Linked DNA regions of Homo sapiens: all the other regions are linked to region 1. The links come from fine-mapping of genetic effects on gene expression. A gene starts in region 1. Each other region holds a variant in brackets. All regions are shown on one strand. Distances are from middle to middle. Region 1 holds the start of NSUN7 (NOP2/Sun RNA methyltransferase family member 7). Region 2 holds the start of APBB2 (amyloid beta precursor protein binding family B member 2). Region 3 overlaps NSUN7 (NOP2/Sun RNA methyltransferase family member 7). Region 4 overlaps RHOH (ras homolog family member H). Region 5 overlaps APBB2 (amyloid beta precursor protein binding family B member 2).

Region 1 (6,163 bases):
GAGTGAGACTCTGTCTAAAAAAAAAAAAAAAGAAAGATAAAATAATTACAAGATCTTTCATAAAATAGAAAATAGGAGGGAGAGGACAAAAATAATAATCTATCACACATATCACTGTAATACAATCATTTAGTTAATGCATTAATTTTATATAGAATTATAATTCAGGCTTTTCTTATTGAGTACTAAAGGTAATACTCAATATTCCATTAGGAGAACAAATTGCCTAGAATAAAATTCTAGCATTAACATTAAATGCCAATTAATCAACACAGCTGCCCAGTCTGCATTTCACTGTTGCGAGAAAAAAAGTATAAAAATGTTCATTTGATTCATTGCATGAAATACAACACTTTGGTTAGGGGAGAGGGGAAGAAGATGGATGAAATAAAATCTCAGAGATTAAACTGGAGGAAGAATGGTTAAGACGGACTTAAAAGGAAAAGAAAAATTACTGAGGAGAAAACAAAGAAACAAAAAACAAAGAGACTCTCTGCAGACAACCAAAAATATATATTCCTGTCTAAATAATCAGTGAGACATTTTAATTCAACTGAGCATTTTTTTTTAATTTTAAAAAATAGAGATGGGGGGCCAGGTGCAGTGGCTCACGCCTGTAATCCCAGCACTTTGGGAGGCTGAGGTGGGTGGATCACAAAGTCAGGAGATGGAGACCATCCTGGCTAACACCGTGAAACCCCGTCTCTACTAAAAATACAAAAAATTAGCCAGGCATGGTGGCGTGCGCCTGTAGTCCCAGCTACTCAGGAGGCTGAGGCAGGAGAATGGCGTGAACCCAGGAGGCGGAGCTTGCAGTGAGCCAAGATTGTGCCACTGCACTTCAGCCTGGGCGACAGAGTGAGACTCCATCTCAAAAAAATAGAAAATAAAACTAAAAATAGAGATGGGGTCTTGCTATATTGTCCAGGTTTGTCTTGAACTCCTGAAGTCAAGCAATCGTCCCACCTCCACCTCCAAAAGTACTGGGATTACAAGTGTAAGCCACCGCATCTGGCTGAACTGAGTAATTAACTGCCTCCTACGAGCAAGGATGTACAAGGCTCATTAAGTACTAAGAAAATCATGCAAAAGAGTGTTGCCCTTTTTGAGGTGTCTCTTTAGGAAGGCTTCTGCTCATCATTTTGGCCATGCTGCTAATATTCTAAACATTTCTGGAACTTCTTTTTGGAACTACATTCAATCAGTTTACAAACCAACATAAAGTTTTTAGTCACAGCTAGTACGAAAACAAACAACTTCAAGCCTTTTGACTGCTCTCCTCATAGTAGCAATATTTGGTCATTTCCTAGTGTCAATTCCACAGGGTCTTGCTCTGTCACCAGGTTAGAGTGCAATGACACCATCTTGGCTCACTGCAACCTCTGCCTCCCAGGCTCAAGCGATCCTCCCGCCTCAATCTCCCAAGTATCTGGGACTAAAGACATGTGCCACCATACTGGGCTAATTTTTAAATTTTTTTTTGTAGAGAGGAGATCTCACTATATGCCCAGGCTGGTCTTTAACGCCTGAGCTCAATCAATCCTCCCACCTTGGCTTCGAAAAGTGCTGGGATTACAGGCCTGAGCAACCACCCTTGGCCTCAGATTGATAACTAACCATCCTTGAGTCTCAAACCCTGAAAGCAAATTAGAAAGGGAAGTTCTACTAAAGTTTGGCTCCTCCCATTAAAGCTAGTGGCTATGAATGGGATAGTCTTAATTGGGGTTGGTGTAATTTTGATATTCATTTTTTAAATTTTGCACCTTTTCTTTTTATTCCGTCTCTGTTCCTCTCCCCATCCTCCCTCACTGGTTTTATATTTGTGAAAGCTCATAAACTAAAATACCAAAAAAGGTAAACACAGGGAATGGAAAGAAATACACAGGGAGGCCAGGCGTGGTGGCTCACTGCCTGTAATCCCAGCACTTTGGGAAGCTGAAGAGGGAGGATTCCTTGAGGTCCAGAGTTTGAGACCAGCCCAGACAATAAAGCGAGACCCCTAAGTCTACGAGGGAAAAAAAAATACAGGGAGAGGGAAATGATCATTGGAATAAATTGTTTCCTTGTTGAATGTAATGACCGCGCACTACACCGATCTAAGGACAAACACAGTGCACGGGGAAATCTGCAATCCTGGGCTGGAAGAGCTAGTTTCATGGGAACCCTAATTCCTTGACACTTGCAATTAACCAAAGATATGCACATGCCTAAAACCAAAACCTGGTGTGAATGAGGGGAAGGGAGGAGGAGGGCTGCATTCCCCAAATTCTCTCGCTATTATTTTCTTTTAGTGTTGATCTTCCAGACTGGCACAACTCACATTTCAGGGCACTGAAAGCCAGCTCATAAGACAAACGCTGAAAGGACTGATCCTCAGACTCGGACAAGGACCGCAGGGGTTCATTCCCATACTTGATTAAGACTTTCTGTGCCGACTTTTCGATTCGAATACCCTGAAAAATGTTGGCTGCCATGACATAAACGGAGTCCGGATAGCCCGTTTTTTCGGGCACACCAGCTGAGCTTTTCCCACCGGACAGAGGCAGGGAAGTGAGTTGGGAGATGATCTCGGGATCTTCTTCGTTCGAAAACTCCAGTTCGCCCGTGGAATTCAGCATGTCTGCCCCTCGCCTGTCGTGAGTCCTTCACCCTGGGGTTAGAATTCCGATGTTCCAGGAAACGGCTTTCCTCGCATCTGCAGCATGGTCTCTGTGAAGAGAGAAGGTGATTGCAGTAAATCACTCTTTCTGCAGCACCCCTGTGGGTGGCCCCCTTCGTTGTGGCCTTAAAGACTAAGAGGGAGCATTTCCCGTCCCATCTGAGTGTCCCAGACTTCGAGCCTGGGACGCTCAAAAAAAAAAAAAAAAGCGAGGAGGGGTGCAGCGGCGGAGGGAGAAGAGCCCCAAGGAGACCGACGGCTTCCCTCAAGCCAGTCTGGGGGCAGAGCTGCCCCCGGAGCCCCGTCCGCGTCCCCACAGCCCAGTCACCGGCTCCCCCGACTCCTCCCTTACCCCGAGGGCGGATGGTTCCCGGGGCTTCGGGGACGAAGACGCGGAGGGCGGCGTCGGTCACAGGCCCTTGGGAGCCCCGGGACTGCGGGGCGACGGCTGCTGCCCGCGAAGGCCGTTTGGTTCAAATGCAGCCACTCCCACCGGCAGGATTCGGGGCAGGGGGGTCGCAGCCTCTGGCGCCCGGTTCGCTCCGGTGTCGTGAAGTGGTGGGCGCCTCGGGGCCTCGCCTGGCCTCGCGCGTGAGGCCTTCGCGGACGTGGCGGCGAAGAGGGGTGAGCGCGGTGCCCGGGGTCTGGCTGGCTCAGGCCGAGGAAAGCTCAGCCTCCCGAGTCTCCGGCAGTCGACTGCTCCCGGACCGGGTCTTCATGGCAACCGCGAGCGGAGGTGGGGCAGGGGGCGCGGCGCGAGGGCCGTTCCCGCGGGATTTGGCGGGTGCTACCTGTTGCCGGGAGAGTCGCTCTTCCCCCAGCGCGCGGAGACACCTGTTTCAGCCCCTCCGAGCCAGAGGCCTCTTGCACAGTTCCTGGACCTCACCGGGCCTGAGTGCGTGCCCTTGGCTTTGTTTATAAACATTTGGGGATATTTTTGAGGTAGTCTGACGTAGTTCCGTGGTTTTAACTCACAAGTTCCTGAAGTCCCTGTTAAAACTACACATTCTTTAAAATATTTTTAAAATATAGTAATAATTTTTTTTTTGAGACATGGTCTCGCTCTGTCGCCCAGGCTGGAGTGCAGTGGCGCAATCTCGGTTCACTGCAGCCTCCTCCTCCCGGGTTCACGTGATTCTCATGCCTCAGCCTCCCGAGTAGCTGGGACTACAGGCGCCCGCCACCACACCCTGCTAATTTTTGTATTTTTAGTAGAGACAGGGTTTCACCGTGTTGATCAAGTTAGTCTCGAACTCCTGACGTCAAGTGATCTGCCGGCCTTGGCCTCCCAACGTGCTGGGATTACATGCGTGAGCCACTGCGCCGTCTGTAATAATTTTTTTTAATAACAGAGACAGGGTTCCCATTATGTTGCCCAGGGTGGTCTCGAATTCCTGGGCTCAAGGAGTCCTCCCTCCTCGGCCTCCCAAAGTGCTGGGATTTCAGGCGTGAACCACCGCCTCCAGCTAAAAAAAAATCCTTGGAACCCATCCTAGAGATTTGAGTTGCTAAGACCCAGTAATTTGCATTTTTATCAGGTAACTGGCGATTCTGATGCAATCAGCCCAAAGACCACAGTTTGAAAAACTCTGGTATAGTTGAAAGACAACTGGTCCTAATTCCACCTCTGCCTTTCCTCCTTAGGGATTTGCCCTTCCTTCTTTAGGCTAAGGCCATTTCCATTTCCAGCCAGTGGTTAGTAGGATGAAGGGGAAAGAGAGGGCAGCCCATATTTTTCAATGACCTGAAAGGTGCACATATCACTTTGGCTCACATTTTATTGGTCAGAACTCAGTCATATACCCAGCAACCAAGAGGCTGGTAAATGTGTCCAGCTAAAAATAAGGGAACTATTACTGTAGAAGAAGGAGAGAATGGATAATGGGGAAAAAATTAGCAGTACAGAACTCTAACCCTGACCCCTTCTCTCAGAAATCCACCCACTTTCATTATCCCCGGAATACGTTAAACATTCCGTAACATTTTATGTATACATGCATTCATTCGTTCGTTTAACAAGTATATATTAAATTCTTGCTGTGTCCCTGGCATTGTGTTCAGCCCTACAAGTAAAATAATGAATGTATAGAAATGATCAGACACCTGACCGGGCGCGGTGGCTCACGCCTGTAACCCCAGCACTTTGGGAGGTCGAGGCGGGCGGATCACGAGGTCAGGAGATCGAGACCATCCTGGCTAACACGGTGAAACCCCGTCTCTACTAAAAATACAAAAAAATTAGCCGGGCGTGGTGGCGGGCGCCTGTAGTCCCAGCTACTCAGGAGGCTGAGGCCAGAGAATGGCATGAACCCGAGAGGCGGAGGTTGCAGTGAGCCGAAATTGGGCCACTGCACTGCAGCCTGGGTGACAGAGCCAGACTCCGTCTCAAAAAAAAAAGAAATGATCAAAGACCTTGCCCTCAAGAAATTAAAGATGGATATATTTGTATTTTGTCACCTTTTCATTTTTGTTATAAAGATTCGTGTACATACCTGCATTACCCCCCTTCTGCCATCTTTCTATCCACACAACACACACACTCTAAAATAGTCTTGTTTTATCTTTATCTTTTCATTTTTATTATATATCTTTTTTATTCCCAGATGCTAGCAAAATATCACTCTCTTTCACATACAGACATTCACAGAAGATTACAAATATGGAAGGTGTCTTAGAGGTCATGATATATTTTATCATGCATCACCCAGTACACAGTGATGTGAGGCAATAGCTAGCTATAAACTTTGAAATATTGTCATTCAAAATATAATTTGAAGAGTTTATTTTCTTTAATAATAGTTCAATGTAAGTAACAGTTTACTATATTGAAAACAAGGTTTAACGAGTCTCTATCCCCAAGGTAGAGCTTAGGCAAAGAGTTGTGGGGTTAGCAAATTCATGGTTACTATTTACTTTAATCATGTATATAATCCTGCCTCCTTACTTCTCACTCCTGGTTTATAGCCTCATTGTGGACTTAATGTATTTGAGGGGAGGGTCAGAGGAGAGCATATTAAATTTCAGTGAACACTGTAAAAAAGTAACCATAGAGACAGGCATATGAGTTCAATTGTTGTGAAAGCAGGATAGTAAAAAAAAAAAATGTAGTTTTTGTTTAAGTTACACTCTGTAATATGACCAGAGCATTAAATCAGACATGAGGAGAAAATCAAAATGTACCTGAGGCTTTCTGCCAAAGGAAATTAATGATTTTTCTTTCCCCAGGGGGTAGAATATTTAAGATATTTGTAAATTAACATTCTTGCATTTGACTCAGAGTACTAGTATATGTTAGGCATGTGAATATTCAAAATACATCTGCTCACTTGCATCAATTTGATCTAGACAATATAAAACGGTGCCCAGTTCCAATGAAGCCTGTTACAGAAATATAAAAAGCATAAGAAACATAAAGAATCTTAACTTGTGTTCTTAAACACCAGGACTCAACTTCCAGTTATTGCTTCTTAGAAACAGTATGGTAAATTTTCATTGCAACACCTT
Region 2 (6,163 bases), 470 kb before region 1:
TGGGGGTTGGGTAGAGGGAGAGGTATGAGCTGGGGACGGGGTGGCTGAAAAAAGAGGTTGGTAGTAGAGGAATCCAAATATATTTTTGAAATGGAATAAGGGTTGTTATATTTTTAATTTTCTTTTTATTACCAACCAAACAAGCAGCAGTGATGGAGTGATGGAGTTTGATTATGTGTCCTTCAGTTTAGTAGTTAAGATTTTATCTTTAAGCAACTGGAAGTCATCAGCGGTTTTAAAGGAGAAGAATGACATCATCAGCACCTTTTTTTAGAAGGATCACTCTGGCAGCGGTGTGAAGAAAGGGCTTGGATTGGGAGTGATGGGTGTCATCAAGGTTGGTTAGCAGGATTCTGAAATATGCATGAAAAGACAGTGAGGACAGTGGACAGTGAGGACAGAGAGGCAGGCCCACATTTGAGAGGCAGGCATTCCTGAGTTGGGAGCAAAAGGGCTTGGTGATTAATTTAATGCGGGTGGTTGAGGAGGAAGGAAGAATTGAAGATGACTGAGATTTCTAGTTTAGAAACCTGAGTAATTGGGGAATGTCATTAACTGAAATAGGAGTGGAAGGAAGGAAATCATCCTATGTGAGGCCTACCAGAAGCTTTACATATGTTATTTAATCTTAAATAAACCTATAATGAAAAAATTAACATGCCCATTTTGCAGATAAGAAAAGTGAGATTCAGTGAGGTAAAGTAGCTTGCCCAAGGTCACACAACTACTAAGAGCTGGAATGTGAAATAAGGTCTTACTCCAGTGCCCCTATTCTTTCCATGATAGTAGGGGACTTTATGCTTTGTACCTCTTTGTACCTTTCTACACTCTAATAATAATTTTAGTTTGGAAAAATAGGACTGAAGCTCAATGGGAAGGTAGACCATGGAAACATGGTCCTCCCAGGAATAGTGCAGTATGAAGAGAGATTAAAGGATTGCCCTAATGACATTAAGGCCCAGAGCAGCACTGTTGAATACAATTTTTTGCAGTGATGCAAATGCTTTTTACTTACATTATCCAATACAGTAGTCATTAGGCCATATGCTACTGAGCACTTGAAATGTGGCTAGTATGAAAGAGGAACCGAAGAGTTAATTCTAACTGATTTTAAGTGATTTCAGATTAAATAAGCATATGTGGCTAGTGACTGCCATATTGGATGGTTTAGGACTAGAGAAACCAGTCAGGCGTAGAGGGTTCATCAGAGAAGAGGCCTTGCTGGTACCCCTGAAAAATCACTCGATATTTGATCATCTGCCTCATACCTCTGGGTAATATTGGTCCTATATTTGGGGACCATAATTTATTAGCTAGCAAAAGGTTTTTTCCTAGTGTGGACTACAAACTTATTTTACTATGTTTTATCTTTAGGAGAGTAAGTACAATACTCCCTCTCCTTTCTTATCTGAGAATCATTATAGTCATTTTCTCTGTATTTACATTTTTCCATACATAGTATTATTTAAGAGCTCAAGCTCCAGGAAAACTGCCTGGGTTCAAATCCCAGTTCTGCCAATGAATATTTTGTGCCTTGAGTTAGCTGCTTCACATTTGCAAGCCTCACTTTCCCTATCCATAAAATAGGGATAATAATAGTGCTTCATTTATAGGGTAGTTGTGAGGATTGAGTTAAATAACCTATGGAAAATGCTTAGCCAGTATCTGGCACATGCTAAATAGTCAGTAAGAGTTAGCTATTCTAAAACTAGTACCGTGTGACAGTGTGTATTTTGTACCTCTGCATTTTGACATTTACTCAACTCTATTTTTGCTTCAATAGAAGGTGTTCCTCCAGATCTCTGTCAGAACATTCCAAAAAGAAATTCATTCCTCAAGATAAGAAGGTAGACAGAGTTTTGAAGAATTAGATTTTATCTTATTGCAGGCATGAGTTTTGAGTTGTTTTTTATTTCACTTTGATTACTAAATTGTTAAAGTATTTAAAATCATTACAGAAGAAAATCATGACCGTGATATTTTGTTGTGATCATTAAAATTCCCTTGGTTTAAGCTCAAACCGTTGCACATATACCACACAATCAAATAATAATACTAGAAGTTCTTAATGTTGGCACAGAAGATTTCTTGATGTTTTGTAGTTATACTGTTTTTTTTGTTTTGTTTTGAGATGAGGTCTTGCTGTGTGGCTCAGGCTGGAGTGCAGTGGCTATTCACAGGCAAGATCCTACTGCAACTTTGAACGTCCAGCCTCATGTACCCTCTTGCCTCAGCCTCCCCAGTAGCTGGTACTACAGGCTTGGGCCACTGCACCTGACTCATACCTGTTTAATTGAAATATTTAATTCCTAGACTCTGGCTATTCAATGCCACTTAGAAGTGGCTGGATATTTGTTGATCATGGACTATTTAAAGACTAATGACGTCACAGG[A/TAGGA]ACAAGTAATAGGATCCCTTTTGTTGTCACCTATTTTGTATTTTGTAATCTTTGGATTGTAAAACTGCATTGTAATATAGTATTGCACTCCCTACGGTGTTTGTGCAAAAAACATTTTTTTTTCCCCATTAGATTGGAATTTTGAGAAATCTGGCTTCAAGTGCCAGTTCTGCCTTTGGTTTGTCTAAATAAAGAAGTCATTTATTTCTCTGGGCCACAGAGAGGTAAATGTCATCTGTAAAGTCTAAGAGTTGATCTTGATTTGATTCTAGAATGGTCTTGAGGTATCCTTCCAAATAAAATTCCTTGGATCTGCCTCCTTCCCCCAACTCCCTAGGAGGACCTTTGGCCTTAAGGGACTTAAGAGAGGTCAGTTTTATCTACTGTTCACAGCGTTTACTTCCATGCTTTAAAAAACATGCTCTTGGAATATTCTTGGATATTTCATTTCCTTGGAAAACAATTAATGGGTGAGTCAGCATGAAGAAAAAAACCCACTCACAATAGATATAAAAATTGCATGAAGTGGTGAAACGAGAAATGATTTTCTTTGTAAACTGAAATGATGAGGTATGCAGAAACCAATTACGTATTTATAAAATGAGCGCGCGGTGGGAAAGCTTTATGTAGCAAAGCTAAAGTGCTGTTACATATTTAGCAAGACAGAGGGCATGGAGATTCCTCTCCATACTGCCTTAAAACTGCTGTTAAACGTTCCTTTCAGTGAGAGAGACAATGTGTTGGGAGGCGGACGAAGGAAGGAAGCAAGGGAAGGGTCAAAGCCTTCCCTCCGGCCCCGATCAGTCCCCTCTGTAAATTCATAATTAAGGGAATTTCCTCCTGCAGCTGCGCAACGCTTGGTGGCCGTTTCGACGTCACTGTCAGGGCATTTCAGGGATTTTGTGTGCCCAGGCAGTGACTTCCCGACTTCTCCGGCGTATCCCCGACGGGGCGCAGAACACCGCCCGTGGCGAAGTCGGGCCGGGGGAGTTTGGGAACCCGTCCCCGGGAGCTCAGCGGCCAGAGGAGGGCGCGGAAGTGTTTCCTGGGTGAGCGCGGCAGCGGGACCCGTTTCCGGAAGGCTGATTGCATCAGGTGTGGAGCAGGGCGCCTCCTCGGCCCAACCTGGCGGCCTCTGCGCCTGCGCGCGCCGCCCCGCCCCCCCCCCCCCCCCCCCCCCCGCCGCCGCGGACTCCACCGCGGGTTTTCCTCTCCGTCGGGAAGAGACCGACCTGGGAGGGGCAGGCTCCGCTCACCTACCCCGGACCCCCGAGAGAGAGCGGGGTGGCCAGGCCGGGTTCCGGGGATCTGAGGGGAGCTGTGAGGTCCGGGAATAGAGTGCCTTGGAAAGAGGACCCGTCTGCAAGGTTGGAGGCTGGTCGATCTCCGCTCCTGACGGGAATGGTGGTCTTGGGCTGGTTTCCTTGCCTCTTTGGCCTTGAAGATCACAGACTAAGAACCACAGGCTCTCCAGTTCAGAGAGCCTGTATTTTCCCCAAGAGGTCTACTGTGGCCCTCGACTGTCCTTGGTCCACGGACGTGTTAGGTGGATCTTGGGGTGCAGAGACTCAGTCCCAAGAGTAAACACTTTTCATGAATTTATAGGGATTTCTCTGTGACAGTATTGTTTTTATGTTGTAGGAAGGAGGGACATGATTGCTGGCCTCCAGCTCGGTCTGAGGGAGATAATTGTTAATTGGAGAGGTTATTGGAGTGCAAAAGTCAGAAACCACCTTCCACAAGGCAGCCCCCCTCCCATCCCTTCGTAACAACCTCACTGAGTCTGCATGAGGGTCCCTCTATACACTCTATTCGCACCTTGTGCATTTCCCTCCCAGCACTCTACCTGTTTGAAATAACCGTTTTGAGTGATTATTTGATAGGTGTCTGTCACCCGGCCGGACTATAAATTCCATGAAAGCAGGGGCCTGGGCTTTTAAATTCACCACTATCCTCAGGCCTAGTACAAGACCTCGTGGATCCTTAATAAACTCATGTAGGAAAGAATAAAGTAATGCCCACCCCACTGCATAGAGTCCTCATAGGAAGAATCACGTGAGTTTTTAATTCGAGATCCTTGGTAGGACTGTGTGTGTGTGTGTGTATGGGTAGGGTTCTCTAAAGTGTATAGTCCTCACACCAGCAGCATCAGCATCCCATGGGAACTTGTTAGATATACAGATGCTTGGGCCCCACCACATATCTACCCATTCAGAGACACAGATTGGGACTCAGGGATTTGTACTTCAGCAAACCCTCCAGGCGATTCTGATCCAGGCTCCAGTTTGACAACCGCTGCCCTGGTGAAGAGCAATCCTAAGGATACTTTGGGGATGTCATTCACAGCGTCTGGGGCAGAGCACGGTTTACCGTTTACTGAGACTCGACTCTTATCAGGGCTTTGTTTGCACGCTTACAATTAGAGTTATAGATAATATTATTGGCAATGGAAAGGAAAACCTCCTTTTCCTCTCCGGCAGTTGTATCTCTCCCCTGATATTATCTTGTGATTTCCGGATCAAAGAAGAGTGTGTGTGCGGCATATGCCTGGGGGTGGGGATAGGAGGTAGAAGGAAGGAGAAGGTGTCGCCTACAACTTGCAGTTAGCCTGGGTGGGTGTGGGCAGCTCTCCTGTGGGGACATTTTCCTATTGCAAGGGAATGCTGGCGTGTGGGAGAAAAGCCAGGGCTAAGGTAACCCAACTGCCTTTTGGTGCAGACAGACACCAGCCACACGGAGGGGATACCCGGGCTGCACTGCACGTCCTGCCTTTGGGTCTTACTGGGGGACCCATTGCCTCCCTGCGTGTTCCCAGGCGATTGGGGAGGGTGCCTCCCGCAGGCCCTGCCGCCTCCACCTGCAGGGGTCGCCCTGGGAGCGCGGCCCGCCTCCTTCTGCCCGGCCCCCACCCCCCGGCCCCGCCTTTCTCCCATTCGGCCCCCTCCCCGCCGGGTCCCTCCAGCCTTCCCTCGCGCAGCCGCTGCCAAAGCCTGGAGAAGTGGAATCTCGTCAGCGCCGCTCCCTGCGCGGGACTCGCGGAACGGCACTGAGCATGCTCAGTTGCCGGAGCCCGTTCTGGTCTCAAGTAGGAAGCTAGTGCGCTGTAACCGCATCTGATCTGGGCGCTCCGGGAAGGGCGAGACTGGAGCAGAGCCGCTGGGCGCCGGAGCCGAGGCGAGCGCCGCGCGCACCACTGGTGAGCCCAGCTTTCTTCCTTGCCTTTGCCCCGGATTCCGGGGCAGCACGAGAGTGCTGGGGAAACACCCGGGTAGCGGCAGCAGCGTGCGGCGAGCGGCTGCGGGTTCCCCCGGCGGCTTCTCCTCTGCTCCCGGCCCCGGGGCTCCGCGGCCACTGCTGCCCGCTCAGCCGCAGCCACACCTGCAGCAGCTGCCGCGGCATCTGCAGCGGGGCGCCTGCTGCGGAGTCCCGTGCGCCCTGCGCCCGCGCCGCAGGGCCAGTGGCACGGCGACTGCGGGCTCACTCTCCTTGACTTCCATCCCTCCCGCTTCCCGGCGCCCTCTTTCCCTCAGCAGCCCCGGCTTGGCAGGGCCTGGGGCGGGGGAGACCGGGTTGGAGGCGGTGCGCCCGGGTGGGGACTGCAGAGGGGAAAAGTGAGGGTGGGCGCCTGCGGGAAGAGCGCACACCCCCTTGTCCTGGCACCGGCCTCCGCTGTGCCGCTCGGCTGTCTCTCCTGGGCGGCAGCGCGCTCCTGCCGGGGAGTTGGAGCCGGGGTTGGCTTCTCCACGAGGGGTTCAGAGGCCAGCCCATGA
Region 3 (6,163 bases), 61 kb before region 1:
AATGGTTTCCACATTCTTATCACATCTGAGCCTTACCAGGTAGAGAAGGTACTAAATACACTTTAGAAGTAAAAATATGAAGTACCGAGAGGCTAAACCCACTGGCCTAAGATCTCACCAAAGTTCATGAAAACCAGGACTAGGACCCACGGCTCCCAAAGCCCGTTCTTGCTGTGTTGTGCTGCCTCCATATCCGTCAGGAAGAGCCTTTCCAGAATGATTCTGGGCATATACTAAGAAGAGCAGGTATGGAAAGATCTATTGTCAGGGAATCTTAGAATTCCCTACACGAGTGGGAGAAAGATGTCCAAATTCCTTACGCAGTGGTATTCATGATGGTGCCCTATCTAAGTCCAGGACTGTTTTCCTACAGCGTGCCTCAAAAGTGTTGTAGAGGGCAGGATTCTACATTCACAGCCTGTTCCATCTACGAGATTTTCCAGATGCTACTTGTGGTAGACATTCCTAACTCATGGTACTTAGCCACCAGAGATCATGATGGAATGAGTGGGTGGCTTTTCTACCTGCCATTCCCTCAGAATTCATGAGGGGTGGGGGACAGGGGGACCGGAATTGTCTTAGCACCCCAATGTTATGACAAAACTATGCTACTTTAGAAACGCAGTCTGTTTTTCACCAATTGACATACTACTGATCTGAAGTAACCAGTGCCATCATAAGAAATTACTGCATTAAGAAAATCCTTGCTGTGCCCTTTGAAAAGCTGTTCAGAAATCATTTACAGTGATCTTTCATCTCGGTCGCTGTAGTGAAACATTTTAGTGTGATAAATTTCAAAATTCTAAACAAATTACCCACTTTTATATTGGAAATCTCTACCAGAACTCCCTCTTCATTTTTTAAGGCATACATTTGCTTGTTTTCAAGATCAAGAATTCTGAGCTAGCTTTAAGTAGCAAACTGATTTATATGTGCAATTATAGGATGCATTAAGATGAATGATAGCCTTTACATATTGAAAACTTTGCAGACGTTTTGTTTTGAAAATGGCATTGTATAGTAAATGCAAATTAATTTTGTAAAATTATGTTAAAGAGTATGTTCAGACACTTTCTGCCATGGCCAAAAAGTATGTATGAAAGTATGTGTGTATTTGTTTGTAAAAGGATGCCAATGTTTTACCTGATATCTTAGTGACACTTCAGTTATCTATGCATTCTTTAGATCTGTGATTCGGTAAACAGGCAGCCATGTTCACGATGCCTTCTATGTCTTACCATATTTTTAATTAACCTGTTAAATACAGCTTAAAATATTTTTATTTTATTTATTCTATTTTTACTGAAATATACTGCATTATTGTGTTAATGTATTATCTTTCCTGGATATTATCTCCCAGTGTATCCAGATCTAAGTAATCTCAGTGAACTATACATTGCCTAAAAAGTGGTTTTGTAATGATTTGTAGTCACATTTCTATTGGGATATGTAGAAGAAAAGGCAAAATGCTTAAAGTTCCTTTTATTTTTTAAAAGCAGCTAGATAGACACAGACTTGCCACCTCATACATCTGCTCCTTGGCAACATCAAGGGGAACGACTAGCCAACATGCCTATGGCTAAAAACTTTCCTTTGCAGACTAAAGCACTGCTTGGTGCTTCGTTTTTCTACCCTTCACAACATGTGTGATTTCATCTAAGAGATATATACATGTACACATGCCCTTTGTTTCCACCTGGATACAAGATCACTCATAGCTAATTAGGACCATTGTTTTTTGTTCATCTGTCTTGTTGCATGAAGGGACATTAGACCCATTTCCATTAAAATAAGTTCTTGGTGATAAACTGTGGCACTGCTACTTCTTTTTAAATCCACTTTATGATTTCAAGATGGACACTTGTAAGATGACTCGACACAAGGCCATTGCCTGGAAGCCCCAGAGCTTTCCTCTGTTTGTATGGCCCGTTCATGTCCCAGGCATTGCAACACAAACTCCTCAAGATTTCACCACAACATGACAAGCATTTTCCTAACTGATATTAGCACAATTTAACTAATAAGCCCCTTCGCTCTCTAGTTGGCCAGGCTTAACCTAATACACATCTAACGTGTGTGCCACACGGCCAGTAGAAAGTTTAACTTCAGCTTCAGGGCAAAGATACCCACTCACACCGTGTCAACGCAAGCAGTAGTTCCTGGCCTCCAGAGCAGCTTACTTCCCCTGAAAGAACGCTTTGTTTTCCTTTATGCCCTTTTCCTGTTGACCACTTTTACACATTTAAATGTAATTTGTTGTGAGAATAAATTTAGCTGCATAAAACGTTCGGCTCATTTATCTGACATCTTAGTCACATATACAAGGAATAGAAATAGAAACTCGGTGTCTCTAGTTATTTTTAAATTATTCTTACCTCAGACTTCTTAGAAATCACTTTAGTAATGGAGCATTTTGCTTTGATTAGTTACTACATATTTCTGCCTGGTAAGAACTAGGAAGTAACTTCAAATTTTGAGTAATCACCCTGTACTTATTTGGTGATCAGGAAGGCCAGCTGGCCTTCCGGACATAGAAGCCTATTTAGTCACCAACTCGAGTCTTTTGTAAGCGGTCTTGCTAGGATTGTGATATTTTAGCACGAAGAAGTTTATCACTTCCTTTAAGAACCTGACATCAAAGAATAAAGAATAGAGGTGTACACACACTAAATCCAAAATGAAAGGTAACTAGAGAAATCAGTTGAATCTGGTTTAGCTTAACTGTTAGGCGCAGGAAGGCAGATAAACAGAATTTAAAGTATGTCCCCGCTTTTTGTTCATCTTGCACTTCCACAGTGGTTTCTCTCTAGTCAGTAACAAAATTTCATTATGGTTTCAGGCATTATATGGTGGTAAATAATTTCAGATTAAAAATGTGTTTGCTATTGGAGTATCTGAATACTAGTAATTTCATTATTTAGAATTTTGCAGCACTT[T/CTTT]TATCTCAAGAAGAAGTCCAAGAATGTAAAATGCCAAATGAAACATGTCAGTGGAATCAATATTCTCCTTCATTAGAATTCCCTCATATTGCTTTTTTTTTTTTTCTTCAGACAGAGGAGTCTTACTCTGGAGTGCAGTGGTGTAATTTCAGCTCACCACAACCTCCACCTCCCAAGTTCAAGCAATTCTCGCCTCAGCCTCCTGAGTAGCTGGGATTACAGGCATGCACCGCCACGCCTGGCCAATTTGTATATTTTTAGTAGAGACAGGGTTTCGCCACGTTGGCCAGGCTGGTCTCGAACTCCTGACCTCAGGTGATCCGCCCGCCCCAACCTCCCAAAGTATGTGAGCCACCACGTCCGGCCTCATATTGCTTTTATCCAAAATTCTTTTCCCTTTTCACTCTACCAAAGTATTTAAATAATCCTGTCCTTCATAGAAGATTCTCAAAGAAGAAAACTGCAGTGTAATTAATGAATGGTTTAATTCAGAATCTTCATATACTTCTAAAGAGAAAAATAATTTAGTGCCAAATGCATGTTAGGAGATAATCAATGTAAGTGGCAACAAATTGTGACTTCACATGCTACTGTAGAGATCAGAAAATTATCCTAAACTATTCCATAACAATGAGACAACATCACAGAAAATACACTTGAAAATAAAAATCTCAAGACCAGCTACTTCTGGACAATGGAATACTTTTCAGTCTGGTATGGTGGAGGGCCCGAAAAGGATAAGGGATTCTTATGATACACAATGGGATTCTTTACTGAACAATATGTTAAATTAAGCTGCACCGCCTTCCTTGAGGCATGGACTACCCTAACCAACCAGATAGAAATCTGGGTGGGATAAGAGGATGAGCCACACGCTATAATTTTAGGGCAAGGAGATAGTGTTTGATTTTCAAAATCAGCAAAATAAGCTGAGCACTTTATATCTTTCTGTACAAGAGTGATAACATGAAGAATTCTTCTTCAGGGATTTAAAATACAATAAGCCTGGTTCAACTATAAAAAGTCTTGTTTCCTTTCTTCATTGACACTTTTTTTTTTTTTTTTTTTTTTTTGAGGCAAGGTCTCACTCTGCTTCCCAGGCTGGAGTGCAGTGGGGCAATATTGGCTCACTGCAACCTGCACCTCCTGGACTCAAGAGATCCTCGTACCTCAGCCTCCTAAGTAGCTGGGACTACAGGCGTGTCCCACCACACCCAGCTAATTTTTGTATTTTTTGTAGAGATGGGGTTTTGGGGTTTCGCCATGTTGTCCAGGCTCGTCTGGAACTCCGGTGCTCAAGTGGCGTGCCCACCTCAGCCTCCCAAACTGCTGAGATTACAGATGTGAGCCACTGCACCCAGCCCACTGACACGTTTTACTGATAAATGTAAATCTAAGCTAAAATAAAAATAATGTATTACCGCTATAATACAATTCACCATTCTCTTTTCTCACTTCAAGTAAGAAAGTAAAAATAGAATATCAGAGCTGAAGTAGACCTAAGTATTCATCTTGAAGAAGATAATATTCTAAAAATCATGCCACCTGAATTGAGCATTTAGGAATTTATGTAACATTTCTATACAACTGAATTGCAAAAATAAAACTTTAAATTCAAACTTTATGAATATGTCTATGAATGTTTTTAAATAATAAGATATATAGTTGTATCTTAATTCTATTTAATGACAATTTCTGTTGCCATGATGAAAAATCAGTAGACCCAGAAATGATAATCATACCAATTTTTGGTAGGCAATTGAGAATACATTCAAGATGAATCGACATTTAATATAATTAATTAACATAGTGCTACAATATATTTAATTGTGCCTCAGAAATGATTTACCAAAGTTTGATTCCTGTGTGCTATTTGAAATGACTTGTAGATTTTGTTGTATCCCCTGATCTTAGAATCAGAAATTTGTGGGTTTCTTCAACAATAGGTATCGCTTGCATTCAACAGTTTTGCCTCTTCTTCAGAATTATTAATATTTAGATGGAAATTTGCTCACAGTCTTTTGTAACAGTGCTTGACATAGAGGAAGGGAGAGATGATTGTGTCCAGTCTGCTCAGGATCCTGGAAGCTCCCCCAGTGAGAGACACCTCACTGTAAAAGGAACTCTGAGCTACACACACCTGGCACTTGGGAACTTCCTGCGCTTCCTACTTAAACTCAACTTCAGTCACGTTACAAAAACTCATGTTCATTCCCTGTTCAAAGAACAGCTTGATATTTAAGAAAAAATCACCCTTGATCGTGACTGAGAAAGTCACGACTACAACCGCATGGATGCTGAAGAGCGGTCAGCTGGCGGGAGAGGCCAGGATCGTTTGCCTGTTTGGCTTTCTAATGAGCTACCTGCTGAAGGGAGGCAGTGTTTCCTTCCCTGCAGGGGAAACTTGGCAGCTTTAAGTCCAGCCTGAAAGTTCACAGGAGTGAGATAAGTTCTGACCGCTGATACTGAGTCTCTAACTGGATCCTCTCAGAGCAGCAGTGATTGGCTGAAGTCTCTGAATTCTGCTTTGCTGACTCCTACATTATTGTTTCTCACTTGTCTGAATTCTCTGAAAGTAATATCACACTTAGAAGATCCCTAGGTGACCAAAAGAATGAATATCTTGTGTAGAGATGTAGAATCTTCAGAGAAATACTAGACTTTGAAAAAAAATCAACTGCTCTTTGGCCCCTATAAAAAACACAAGACAATCAAAGCCATCGCCGAGGAGGCCTGAGTAGGGAGGAAGGTGTGTCATCTTTAGGCTTTTCCTCTTTTCTGGATAGTGAGTGTGTGGGAAGGCAGGTGGGCACAAGTGCCTTGGGTGCAACCCAACGACAGTACAAATGTTGAGTTGGCATCCGAGATCTGATCCCTTGGGGACTTGAAAATGGCATAAAGACTGGAGGCAGAACAATCTTGATGGGTTTCAGAGCAACCATTCTGTCTTCTGGCCGAGGTCTTAAGAAGTGTGTCTGCCGTTCACGCGGTCTGGAGGGACAAGTGTTCTTCACAAATGCAGGCACTGCAGGATGGGGGGCCAGCTTGTTGGGTTTTCTGGTCTGTGAGGAAGCCCCCACTTGAGCAGTATTTTTCTGGGGAAGAGGTGGTTTTGTTACAGTCTCTGATAGATTAGCACTGGCTTTAGTTTCTCGATTCAGGAACTCAGCAATTTTCATTTGGATGCCATTATCAGTAGTGGCACCTTTTGTCAATGATGTTTTTGA
Region 4 (6,163 bases), 550 kb after region 1:
GGAAACATTGCTCCAAAGCACAAGCCAATCAGTCCATGAAAAACCCTGTTAGGTGGGGAATAGAATAGTCAGCGCGTGCTTGTAGAAAGAGGTCTGATTTCAGGCGTTAGACCCTTGCACATCCGACAGACCCTGTGACTTGCGCCTCCAATGTGAAGATGGGTTGTTAACTTATCCTTGATTTACCACATCATGTCTCAAGAGATCAGAGGCCCTGACGATGGGGAATGTGATTAAAGTAAAAGAATCATCTCCACTTTAAGAAGAGCACGAGACATTGAAGGCTATTTGAAAGCTATTACAATCACTAAACTTCCAAAGCCAGGTGAAGCAGATAATCTCAGAACAGTGGCTACTGCGATGTCATTCACTTTCATATGTTTATTTTGTGATATAATGTTGTTGTGGCATAAGTCTAATTGTTATTACTATTTTGAGTGCTGAGTTCTGTATATAAAATACTACATTTCATCAAAAAATATACTTTCTTTTCTTCTTTAACATAATGTTATCATACAGTAAGGTCCAGAGTGTTTTCTGTCCGTAGCACTCCCATATTCTACCACGGGTTTAATAACCACCGCTCGATGGCCTGAAATAGAATGTTTATGGGTCCCAGACTCTCCCCATGACCATCTTTCTCTGTGCTCATAGTTCCCCTAGTCACAGCTACTTTTAATTGGTTCAAGTGCTGGACAAAATTGTTTAACTGTGGAAGAGGATTTTGTGCCACAAACTATATTCCTTTAAGGAATATCGTAAGTACAGCTTCCTGGTTTTTGCTGTTTGTTTCTATAACAAATAAATAACTTGTCCCTCTGGGCTTTCTCTGTTTTCATTCCCCTTTTACATTATAAGTCCTTCAATTCTGAGCCTTTAAGTAGCGGCTTCACCTTCAACACACACACACACACTCTCTCTCTCTCACACACACACACACACACACACTCACAGATATACCTTCCCTGGACAAAACCAAACTGTTGCATTTATTCCACTAGTGTTTCTCAAAGTGTAATCTGCAGGCAATTCACATCAGAGTCTTCATAGGGTGGGAGGATTTGTTAAAAATGCATATTCCTGCCAACCTCTAGACCAACCGTATCAGAATGCATGGAGATGGAACCTGGATGCTAAATTAGTTAACTCTTCCCGCACTCATCCAGGTGATTCTTAAACACACTAAAACTTGAGAACTGGCCGGGCGCGGTGGCTCACGCCTGTAATCCCAGCACTTTGGGAGGCCGAGGCGGGCGGATCACGAGGTCAGGAGATCGAGACCATCCTGGCTAACACGGTGAAACTCCGTCTCAACTAAAAATACAAAATAATTAGCGGGGCCTGGTGGCGGGCACCTGTATTCCCAGCTACTCCGGAGGCTGAGGCAGGAGAATGGCGTGAACCCGGGAAGCGGAGCTTGCAGTGAGCCAAGATCATGCCACTGCACTCCAGCCTGGGCAACAGAGCGAGACTCCATCTCAAAAAATAAAAAATTTAAAAAAAACTAAAAATAAATAAATAAATAAAACTTGAGAACCATTGCTCTACAAAAATCATTTCCTTTCTGGTGTCAGCCCCTATTTTTTTCAGGTCAAAATGGAGTTAATTTCTTATCCATGTTGTTCACCTCTGAGATCAGCGTCTCCTTGTCTCTTCCTAAGAAACCTTCTCTCGCCTGTCTCTCTGGCCTTTGATGGTAGTTTTTCTCTGGGCTATTTCTCAGTCCTTGCAGTCTACTTTTAGCAAGTCCTCAGGACACAGTTACTTACTTCTTCCTCCTCCTTAAGCTGCTCTAAAGAAACCCCTTTAGCATCCACAGCTCACACTGCCTAGCTCCAAACTCCCTTTACAATACCCTGCCCAGGGATTCACAGTAACATCTACCGGTTAAAGGTAAAGCCCCATGTGGTTCACAAAACTCATAGCCTTCCTCCTAAATGTTAAAACTACTCAAGATCACTTATTAACAGGTGTTCTCCAAATTTCTTAAATGAACACACACCACGACTACAATAAACAAAATAAAAACAAATTCTACTATTTCACCATTCTAACATACCAAATGCTGTCATTCATTTTTTTACGGCTCACATTTAATTCTTATTCACAACAAAATCAGAATGTAATTAAAATTTTTAATTCTGATTTTCTAACCTAACATCATATCAAACATATTTTCATAACCATCATAACTATGATTTTTAATGACTTTAAAAGAACCCATGGGCTGTGCGCAGTGACGTGCCTGTAATCCTAGCACTTTGGGAGGCCAAGGCAGGAGGATCACTTGATCCCAGGAGATGGAGACCAGGCTGGGCAACAAAGTGAGACCCCGTCTCTACAAAAAAAAAGTTAGCCAAGTGTGGTGGCACACGCCTGTGGTCCCAGCTACTTGGGAGGCTAAGGCAGGAGGATCAAATGAGCACAGGAGGTCAAGGCTGAGTGAGCTGTGATTACACACTGCACTCCAGCCTGGGTGACAAAACAAGACCCTGTCTTAAAAAAAAAAAAAAAAAAAAAAAAACTCATGGAGTTAATGTTGCCAGAACTCCTATTGCTTAGTGTTCAGGGTATTTTCAGATTTTGCTGCTATAAATGATAATACAGTGAATATGTTCATGCATATTACTTTTCTTTGAATTATTTATTC[G/A]GAATAAATTTCCAGGGGTGGAATGAATGGATCAAAGTGTATGAACACTTTAATGGCTCTTGATACATATCGTCAAATTGCCATATTTGTATTTTACACAGTTCCTCAGTAGCATGCTAGTAAACGTTTAACAACATGCTTGCCCCCCGCCCCGAAAAAAAAAAGGTGGGGAGCCTGATTTATTGTGTTTGCTGATTTTCACAGTGTACTTTTACCATAGCCAATTTCAAGCCACCATCATGACATCGCTGAATGCAAAATTGAAAACAGATGCTCAGATAGCACAATATTATATAGCATTTCCATCACACAGATAAAGAGAAGTCAATAATGTCACTGGCTTGGAAAATTTCTGAAAATATTACAATCAGCACTTGAGAGCAAGCCGGTTCTAGAACACCACTGTAAACATCTCCCTTGATATTTTGCAACAGCACATCTTTTTTTTTTTTTCATTGAAATCATTGAAAATTCACCCTGTTCCCATCTGTGTGACAATGAGCATGCTTTTAGGTCCATAGATGATGCAAATAATGAATAAAACCTAATGCAAAAAAAAAGGGGGGGATAGAGTGAACATCTAACACCTGTCCGGGTTGAATAATTCTGTCTACCCACCCTCAAACATTCATTTTACCGTGCTTTTTTCCATGAGGTCATGTATACAAATGATTCAATCATTTATTTACTTAACGAGGCACTGAATGGATGACTATACGTAGTTCTCAGGCAAATGTGATGAGAACCGTATCTTCTGTTTCTTAACCACTCTCTTCCTTGGGTTTCTTTTCTACGAAATGGGGAAGAGGTCACTGTGACTTCAGTTTTACGAGAAACTGAGTGCAGAGATAAGAAAGGTTCAACTTGTGCTCTAAGAAGCACTTGAACATTCAGTAATGCTCTGGAAATTTCTTCCAAAAGCAATTCATTAGTATTCTATTTTACCAGAAAAGAATGTGATTTGGTGCTTTCGCTTGAAAGCAACATCCCCTCTTTGGGCTGCCCCGGAATAATATATAGCTTCTACATGTATACAACACTTTGGTTTTTAAATGAGCGGCACCGTACGTTTGCGTGTTAAAATGCGGGTATGACTGAGCTAAACATCCTCATATCCTGGACCCAGTCACCCCGCTCCCGATAACTCATCTCAAGGAATGAACTCAAAACAAAGGAAAATACTTGCTGTGTGAAGATATTAATCACAATAGAGAGTAGATCAATTTGCCTCATTTCAGCACTTATTCAACTTACGGTTTCTGGGGCCCTGGTAGGAGAGTTCTGGATTCTTGGTTCCTAAATCCCCACCTGCAAAACGACCACTTTCCAAGTTGTTTTGGGGCTTGTATTTTTTAATCACACAGATTCCTGGACCTCACGTGAGGGCTGGGGTATGAGACATGGAATTTCAGTTTCTTAAAAGCTCCCCAGGTGGTTTTGCTGTCCAGCCAGCTTTAGAAACCACTATTCCACAGTGAGACACCAGACACATGATCGTGGTCTCTGAACAACTGTCCACATCCGGGGAACAGTATGACAACTTCTTGTGCAAGTCGTCAAAAGGTTGTTCAGGGCATTCAAGCAGTTGCTAGAGTCAAATGGCTAAAGAGCTCACAGAGGAGCCCTAAGTTTCTGGCACCCTTCCACCCCCCTGGGGTCATCCTTTCCATCTCTGACACCCTCCTTGCTCTCACAGCCCACCCCAGCCCCCACACTGTCATGCTGCCTCCCAGCCTCCACCTGTGCACCCCATCCTGACTTGTGCCCATCCCTTTTCATACACAAAGCTCCAGAGTCTCCTCCCTTAGGACACCAGTGGGACTCTAGAAGGAACACTATCACCGTGTGACTCACGTCATCTGCACACATAATTAGGAATCCCCTGCACAATTAACATGCCAGGTGGATTTGCATTTTTTTAAAGGAGGCTTTTAATCCAAAAAAATATTTATAACCTAGAGAGTGGAATGGGGAAGGAGGATGCTTTTTAATCCTGGCTTTCACCCAGATCCAAGCATCCCAAACCCAAATAAGCACTCACTGCCACAATGATCCCCACTCCTAAGTAGAAATGGAATTTTAGCTGTGCCTTGCTAGCACTAAAATTAACACATTGTAAGATAAAATAATTTAATTTAAACTGGGCAAGGAAGAAAGGTCATGCTCTCTGCCTCTAATGAAAAGCACCTCTAGAATTCCACCCCAAGCGTTCAGAGAGCGACGTCAACCAAGGAGGCCCACAAGTAATGCAGCGGATACTGAGAGGACCTCTCTCATCTCATAAGCTAGAGAAACTGTTACCAAATGGCTTAAAATAGCGGTTTCCAAGTTTGTTTTCCTTCTTTCATATGTATTCTCACTAGAAAAACACCCAACCCCTGTGCCTTGTCCATATTTGGTGCTCAAAAAACGTTAATTCCCAGCCTCCACCTGTCACCCTACTTTCCCTGGAAAGGAATGTTGGGATTAGGAGAGTTAGCTTTGCAGGCTTCTTGCTCTTAAGCCAGGGCTCATAACACCTTCATTTGTGGCAATAGCCAAGTCCTTAATAAGAATCATAAGAGTTGCATCTATTGAGAGATTTTTTTTTCAGTCAGGCACTAGGCTACATGCTTTACATATTTTTATCTCATTTGATCTCTACGACAACCCTCTGAGGTAGGTATTTTCAGTTATTATTACTGTTATTAGAGATATTTTGTGAATTTTTTTTTTAATCTGAGCATTGAAGAAGTTAAGTAACTTGTCTGAGGTTCCCACAGCCCAGAAATGATAGAATGATAGAATGGGGATTCCATGCAAAGTGATCTGGCTCAAAAGTTGGGTTCTTATTCACCGTGCTGTATGTTTGTTATTATATGGGTTCAGATATTTTATGGTCCAGAAAAAAAGTGTCTGAATTATTATGATCTACTGACTCTCTAAACAACGTCCAGAAAAAGAACAGAAGCATACCCGTGCCATCTCATTTAGACATGCAAAGAAAGTAGCACATATTTCATGGAATTTGGGGACTGGCTTTTGAGGAATAGAGACTTGCTTATCATTCATCAACCAACTCGTTCTCCCAAGAGGAAGGCCACTTTAATTCCTGGATAATTGAAGGGCCTCCTTAAAATGAAGAAACCAGAGGTGGAGGTCTTACTGGTACCCCGAGCCACACGAACCTTTCTCTGCATAAATGATGTCCTAAGGGAAGACAGTAGAGGGCAAATGGAGGCCCACAGCCAGGCACAGGGATGCAGAAAGCAGCCCCAAGTGGGAAGAGGCCACGCTCGACAAGCTCCCTCTCACATGGAATTCTGCTGGTGCCGTGAGAGCCGAGGAAGCGCAGCCGCAGGGCAGAAGGAGACCAAGGACTATTGAATGGGGTCACTTCTCCCCAGTGCCTGCAAGGTCCTCGCTTTTGTGTCCACACCCTAACTGTCTAATCTGATTTCCTGCAATGTGTAAAACAAACTGTCTTCTCTTCTCCAGTGTCTCTTCAACTGGCCTTATCATCTCCAGGTCAGT
Region 5 (6,163 bases), 71 kb before region 1:
CAAAAAAAATTCAAAAAATTAGCTGGGCATGGTGGCATGTACCTGTAGTCCCAGCTACTCCAGAGGCCGAGGTGGGAGGATCATCTGAGCCTGGGAGGCTGAGGCTACAGTGAGCCGTGATTGTACCACTGCACTCCAGCCTGGGTGACAGAGCAACACCCTGTCTCAAAAAAAAATTGATGATGGTGATGGGTGCGCTCTGTGAATGTACTAAAATCCACTGGATTGCACACTTTACGTGAGTGAATTGCATGTGAATGATACCTCAATAAAGCTGTCACTCCCACCCCTATCCCCCAGAAAAACTGTGGAAACAGCTGGCAAAAGGGCCCTACTCAATGGGGGGATCCACTGTAAAGGTGCCATCAAGAGACAGTGAGGGTGGAGAGAGGCTGAAGGGCCATGGTCTGCATAGGTAGACAGCGTCTAAGGCACCAGGTCCCCGGAGCTTCTCCTGACTCTCCTCTCCTACTGAAAAGGCTGTTATTTCTTTTTTTTCTTTTTCTTTTTTTGTTTTTTGAGACAGAGTCTCACTGATACTTGCCCAGGCTGGAGTGCAGTGGTGCGATCTCAGCTCACTGCAGCCTCCGCCTCCTGGGTTCAAGCAAGCATGTCCAGCTAATTTTTGTATTTTTAGTAGAGACAGGGTTTCACCGTGTTGGCCAGGCTGGTCTCGAACTCCTGACCTCAAATGATCCTGGCTCAGCCTCCCAAAGTGCTGAGATTACAGGCGTGAGCCACTACGCCCGGCCAGAAGCTGGTATTTCATTCCTGTTGAGCAAACATGAGAATGAAGTGTCCTGTCTATTAAAAAAAGATCAGTCTGGGCGTAGCTGTTATTGGTGATTTGGGCCCACATTTGAGTGTGGTAAGTGGCTTTAGGACACTTTAAATTATCCTTTTCTGTCCCCAGGAATGGATATTTTGAACAGTGCCATAGAAAATCTTATGACCTCATCCAACAAGGAGGACTGGCTGTCAGTGAACATGAACGTGGCTGATGCCACTGTGACTGTCATCAGTGAAAAGGTGAGAAGGAATCTTCGATGACATTGGTGTGTCTTATACAGTGAGTATAAGATACAGTGGTTTTCTGTGGAACTTAGGAACATAGTCAAGGCCGGAGTTGTGCATCCTTGTGATTAAGATGGCCTACATTTGAAAGATTTGGCCCTTTGTCTGGGTCTAAATCTGTGCATACCTCTGTTTTCCTGTGGCCTGAGAAACTTCTCTTCTGGTGCTTCTGATTCTGTCTTCCTCATGTGCCCCAGAGAGAAATTGTTTGCTAGAGGTGAGTGTGTGACGCTAGTAGTCGCTCACTCTCAGGGCGCCAGTATTGCCTGGGCTGTGTGATCTGGGGATGAAAAGCAGAAGATGCTTCCATTTGGGAGAGTCCTGTGACTATCAGTAGCAGAAGGAGCTATTGGTTGTCTTGAGAAGAGGCCACATTAGCCTCAGCCCAAATTATCTCAGTTTCGTGGTTGAAGAAATTGAAGCACAGAGAGGCTAAGTCATTTGCCCAGCATCACACAGTTGGAAGCAATGGAATCAGGACTTAAATCCAGGCAACCTGGCCCAGACTTGTGCCCACTTTTCTATTCTGCCTCTGTGAAGCACCTGCCAGGGAAAGACCACCAGTCATCAGCCTGCCCCACAGCTGCCCGGTTCACCCTGGAGAGAGGAGCAGGGTGCTCACTGCCTGCCTCCAGCTGGCCACACTGAGCTCTCCTCACCTCTTCAAGTAGGTCCCGCCCTTCCCCACACCAGCATCATCGCAAGCACTGCACCCTCCATGCTCCACCCTCTGCCTACCCGACCCTTACCCAGATCACCACCACAGCCTCCTTCCTCCTGAGAAAACTTCCCGACCTCTCACACTAGTGTACTTTGCTCATTAAACACTCCCAAGGCACTAGAGTGAATATTTAATTAGTCAAGATGTTAATGATCCAAAAGTCAACATTTTGGATGTGTTTATTAATTCAAAACTTGCATATGGTTCTTGCAAAGGATGTGGTGTTCATCCCTATGAGAAAGAATTCTGAACATTTCTTTACGCTGCCTCATGTGGATCCCAGATGGACACCAGTTTGCAAGAGAGAAAAGAAAAAAACAATTTGACAACTTTTTGTTGATTTGGCAGCTTTTTGTTTTATATGGTTTTAGATGGAAATGTGATTCAGTGTGCTGTTTAGTTTGGGTAAGAATCACTGGACGAAGAAAGATACCGTGAATCCCTTTTTTCTGGTGCTCTGGGGGTTTACTTGGCCAAATGGGTTTTGGGCCACCAGGTGTCCTGTATTTGGGCTAGATGTAAGAAGTATGGACGGCACTGTCCCTCCCCACAGTGAACTCACAGCCACGTAGCATAATGGAGAATGGGACCCACATCACACCCCATGACAGCAGTGTAGTTCAGAGCAAGAATGACCTCCAGAACAGGGTAGCCATGCAGTGATGGCCTCTTCAGACATTTGGGCAAGGTTCCGCCTTTCGAGAAAAACACAGGTCCTTTCTGAATTCGGCCTGGCTATACTTTCTGAATGCCAGTTCCTATGTGCTGCCACTCTTAAGCTTGATCCTGGGATCTCCTGATTGGATGCCGCATAATGTCTCTTGCAGAATGAAGAGGAAGTCTTAGTGGAATGTCGTGTGCGATTCCTGTCCTTCATGGGTGTTGGGAAGGACGTCCACACATTTGCCTTCATCATGGACACGGGGAACCAGCGCTTTGAGTGCCACGTTTTCTGGTGCGAGCCTAATGCTGGTAACGTGTCTGAGGCGGTGCAGGCCGCCTGCATGGTGAGTTATCCCGGTACAGGCTGTTGAGCCCTCCCGCCTCTGCTCATCTCTAATATGCCATACATTATAGCAGAATCACTCACGGAAATGAAAAAAGTCGAATCCCTAAAGTAATGCTTTACTTTATAACGCCGTCATTCCTAGGGCCAGAATCAGTTATGATAAACAGATTACATCTCCAAAGGCCAGAACTCCTGAAAGAAGTGGGGCCAGATAGAGGCTCCGATGAGTTTCATAACCACCACCTTGACGACGGTCAATCCTTGATCCCAAATCAATTTCATGTGTGAAATGTTGGTCGTGTATGAGTTGGTACTGTTTGGGTTCAATTCAGTACTTTAAAAATCAATACATTGAATGACTTTTGTTTCCAGTGATTGGTTTCTGTACACCGTTCTTATATATTTTATTTATATCTGTTAACTCAGTCCTT[C/A]CGACAACTCTGTTAGGTAGTTGTTAGTTCTGTTTTATTTATGAGAAAATAGAGACTTTAGGGAAGTTAGAGAATGGGCCTCAGGGCTTGTCGGTAAGTGACAGAGCCGAGCCTGGATTCAGCCCCAAGCTGCCAGGTGACAAAGTCAGAGCTCTTTATACCACATGGATACTTGGAAACAAACAAGAATCCCTCATTATTCCTTCAGCATGTGTCTTTGTGCCCCTCTTATGCCAGACACTGCAAAAGTTCTAATAAAAATGAGGGAACTGGGCCGGGGGTGGTGGCTTACGCCTGTAATCCCAACACTCTGGGAGGCTGAGGCAGGCGGATCACTTGAGGTCAGAAGTTCAAGACCAGCCTGACCAAATGGAGAAGCCCTGTCTCTACTAAAAATACAAAATTAGCCAGCGTGGTGGCGCATCCCTGTAATCCCAGCTACTCGGGAGGCTGAGGCAGGAGAATCACTTGAACCTGAGAGGCAGAGGTTGCAGTGAACCGAGATCGCGTCATTGCACTCCAGCCTGGGCAACAAGAGGGAAACCCATCTCAAAAAAAAATGAGGGAGCTATATGAGTGTGGGCACCAAAGCCTGTGGGCAGGTGTGTTCCAGCAGCAGCAGGTTGGGTGCTGGGCCCGAGTGGAAGGAGGTGCGGTCCAGATCATGGCGGGCTTATGATGATGGCGTGTGGGGGCCTGATTTTCTTCAGCAAGGATTGCTAAACTGGGGATTGAATTGATTGTATTTAGATTATTTATTTATTTATTTATTGAGATGAAGTTTTGCTTTTGTTGCCCAGGCTGGAGTGCAATGGCGCGATCTCAGCTCACTGCAACCTTCGCCTCCTGGGTTTAAGTGATTCTCTTGCCTCAGCCTCCCAAATAGCTGGGATTACAGGCACCTGCCACCACGCCTGGCTAATTTTTTATATTTTTAGTAGAGATGGGGCTTCATCATGTTGGCCAGGCTGGTCTCAAACTCCTGACCTCAGGTAATCCACCCGCCTCAGCCTCCCAAGTGCTGGGATTACCGGCATGAGCCACCGCACCCAGCCTGTATTTAGATTTTAGACGAGTATCCAGCAAAAAAAGAAGACAACCAAGTAGAGGATAGGTTGGAGGAACAAGGCTGAGGTGGCGATCAGCCAGGAGCCCAGTTACCTTCTGCAGATGGGAGAGAGGAGGAGCGTCCACGCTAGGAGAGCAGCGTTGGGAACAAACAGGAGCAGAGGCTTTGAGAAGCACCGAGCTGCCTGGCTGGGGGAGAACTGCTGCATGTGAAGCCCCTGGGCTTCATTTAATTCAGCCTCGCACTTACGGGCTGGAATCTGGGGCATTCAGCATGACTGAGATACAGTCCTTGCATTGTAGAGCTCAGGTATAGTGGGGGAGACACAGAAACCTAAACTCTGTTACAGTGTAGAAAGTGCTGTAAATAAAAGTATGAGGATCTTCACTTTCAGCCGGGCGTGGTGGCACATGCCTGTAGTCCCAGCTTCTGAGGAGGCTAAGGTGGGAGGATGGCTCAAACCCAGGAGGTCGAGGTGCAGTGAGCTACGATGGCACCACTGTAGTCCAGCCTGGGTGACAGAGCGAGACCCTGTCTCAAAAAAATAAATAAGAAAAATAAGTATGAGACTGTGCTGGATTGAGAAGTAACTGGGAAGAAAAAGAAGTGGAGGCCCTAAAAGCAGATAACTTACAAAGTTTGCCAGTGAGGGGGAGCTTGAAGGGCAGCATTGGAGGGTTTGTTCATGTGTTTATTTCAGGACAGGAGAGGCCTGCCCCTTTTTTATTCTTTATTTTTATTTTATTTTATTTTTTTTAAGAGATGGGATCTTGCTATATTCCCCAGGTTGGTCTTGAACTCCTCCCTGGAACGGCAGGGGAGCACCACCATGCCCAGCTAGGTTTTCTTTTGTGGAAAATGGAGGTAGATAAAGAGTGGAGGAGGCTGGGCACAGTAGCTCACGCCTGTAATCCCAATACTTTGGGAGGCTGAGGCGGGCGGATCACTTGAGGTCAGGAGGTTGAGACCAGCCTGGCCAACATGGTGAAACCCATCTCTACCAAAAAATACAAAAATTAGCCGAGCGTGGTGGCATGTACCTGTAGTCCCAGCTACTCAGGGAGGCTGAGGTGGGAGGATGGCTTGAACTTGGGGGTGGAGGTTGCAGTGAGCTGAGATTGCACCACTGCACTTCAGCCTGTGTGAAAGAGTGAGACCCTGTCTCAAAAAAAAAAAAAAGAAAAAAAAAAAAGAGAGCCAAGGGGAGGGACTTAGCCTACGAATTAGTTAGAGAGACCTTTTACTTTGACATAGTCCAGAAGATGCTAAGAACCAAGAATGGGTGGAGCTTGGGGAAGGAAAGGGAGTTCTCTGACCGCCGCCCCCCCACCCCATACAGCACATTGTGAGGTTATGAATGAAGGGAAAGTTTGCACCTGTAGTCCCAGCTACTCAGGAGGCTGAGATGAGAGGACCCCTTGAGCCCAGGAGTTCAAGTCCAGCCTGGGCAACATAGAAAGGCCCTATGTCTAATAAAAATGTTAAAAGGATGAGGTGGGAGAGCAGATTGCAAAGGTGGGGCGTAGAAAAGAGGCATTTGACCTTTATCATTTGAAATAGAGCAGGAAGGAGGGAGAAGGGGAGGCCTGGCGTTGAACACTTGTTATCTGGTGTCACACTTACACCATCCTCTGTGAGAGTGGCTAACTCCCTGCAAGAACTGTAGGGCCAGGATTCTAACTCAGACACCCTGAATATGCAGGAGCAGGGCTGGGGTTCAGGGGAGCAGGGACAGTAGAGGAGTCAGGTGAACCCACTGACCAGGTACAGGGAGTTGATGAGATAAAGGAGATCTGTGAAGAAAATAGAAAATGGGAGATTTCAGCCAAGCGAAAATGGATGACAACTATTTTGGTATT

What was found.
Region 2: its variant is fine-mapped to the expression of NSUN7 in whole blood (INTERVAL, PIP above 0.99).
Region 3: its variant is fine-mapped to the expression of NSUN7 in testis (GTEx, PIP 0.97).
Region 4: its variant is fine-mapped to the expression of NSUN7 in nasal epithelium (TOPMed, PIP 0.98).
Region 5: its variant is fine-mapped to the expression of NSUN7 in whole blood (INTERVAL, PIP above 0.99).

What each region holds. Positions count from the first base shown.
Region 1 is chr4:40,747,149-40,753,311 of GRCh38, reverse strand. It overlaps NSUN7 (NOP2/Sun RNA methyltransferase family member 7), which reads right to left and starts at 3,357. Exons shown (of 12, transcript NM_024677.6): 1 at 3,012-3,357; 2 at 2,321-2,709. The coding sequence starts at 2,618.
Region 2 is chr4:41,213,831-41,219,993 of GRCh38, reverse strand. APBB2 (amyloid beta precursor protein binding family B member 2) reads left to right here and starts at 5,452. Exons shown (of 18, transcript NM_004307.2): 1 at 5,452-5,589. RefSeq lists enhancers at 3,141-3,390, 2,698-3,512 and silencers at 3,521-3,570, 5,188-5,357, 5,768-6,077. The variant A/TAGGA (reference allele first, on the strand shown) is at 2,394.
Region 3 is chr4:40,808,424-40,814,586 of GRCh38, reverse strand. NSUN7 (NOP2/Sun RNA methyltransferase family member 7) reads right to left here. Exons shown (of 12, transcript NM_024677.6): 12 at 3,403-6,163. The coding sequence ends at 5,648. It overlaps APBB2 (amyloid beta precursor protein binding family B member 2), which reads left to right. Exons shown (of 18, transcript NM_004307.2): 18 at 1-4,560. Among named protein-coding and RNA genes, the nearest start is that of NSUN7, 62 kb to the right of the region's middle. The variant T/CTTT (reference allele first, on the strand shown) is at 2,937.
Region 4 is chr4:40,198,307-40,204,469 of GRCh38, reverse strand. The region is part of intron 1 of RHOH (ras homolog family member H); the gene reads right to left. Among named protein-coding and RNA genes, the nearest start is that of RHOH, 4.4 kb to the right of the region's middle. The variant G/A (reference allele first, on the strand shown) is at 2,651.
Region 5 is chr4:40,818,510-40,824,672 of GRCh38, reverse strand. It overlaps APBB2 (amyloid beta precursor protein binding family B member 2), which reads left to right. Exons shown (of 18, transcript NM_004307.2): 16 at 914-1,029; 17 at 2,623-2,802. Among named protein-coding and RNA genes, the nearest start is that of NSUN7, 72 kb to the right of the region's middle. The variant C/A (reference allele first, on the strand shown) is at 3,236.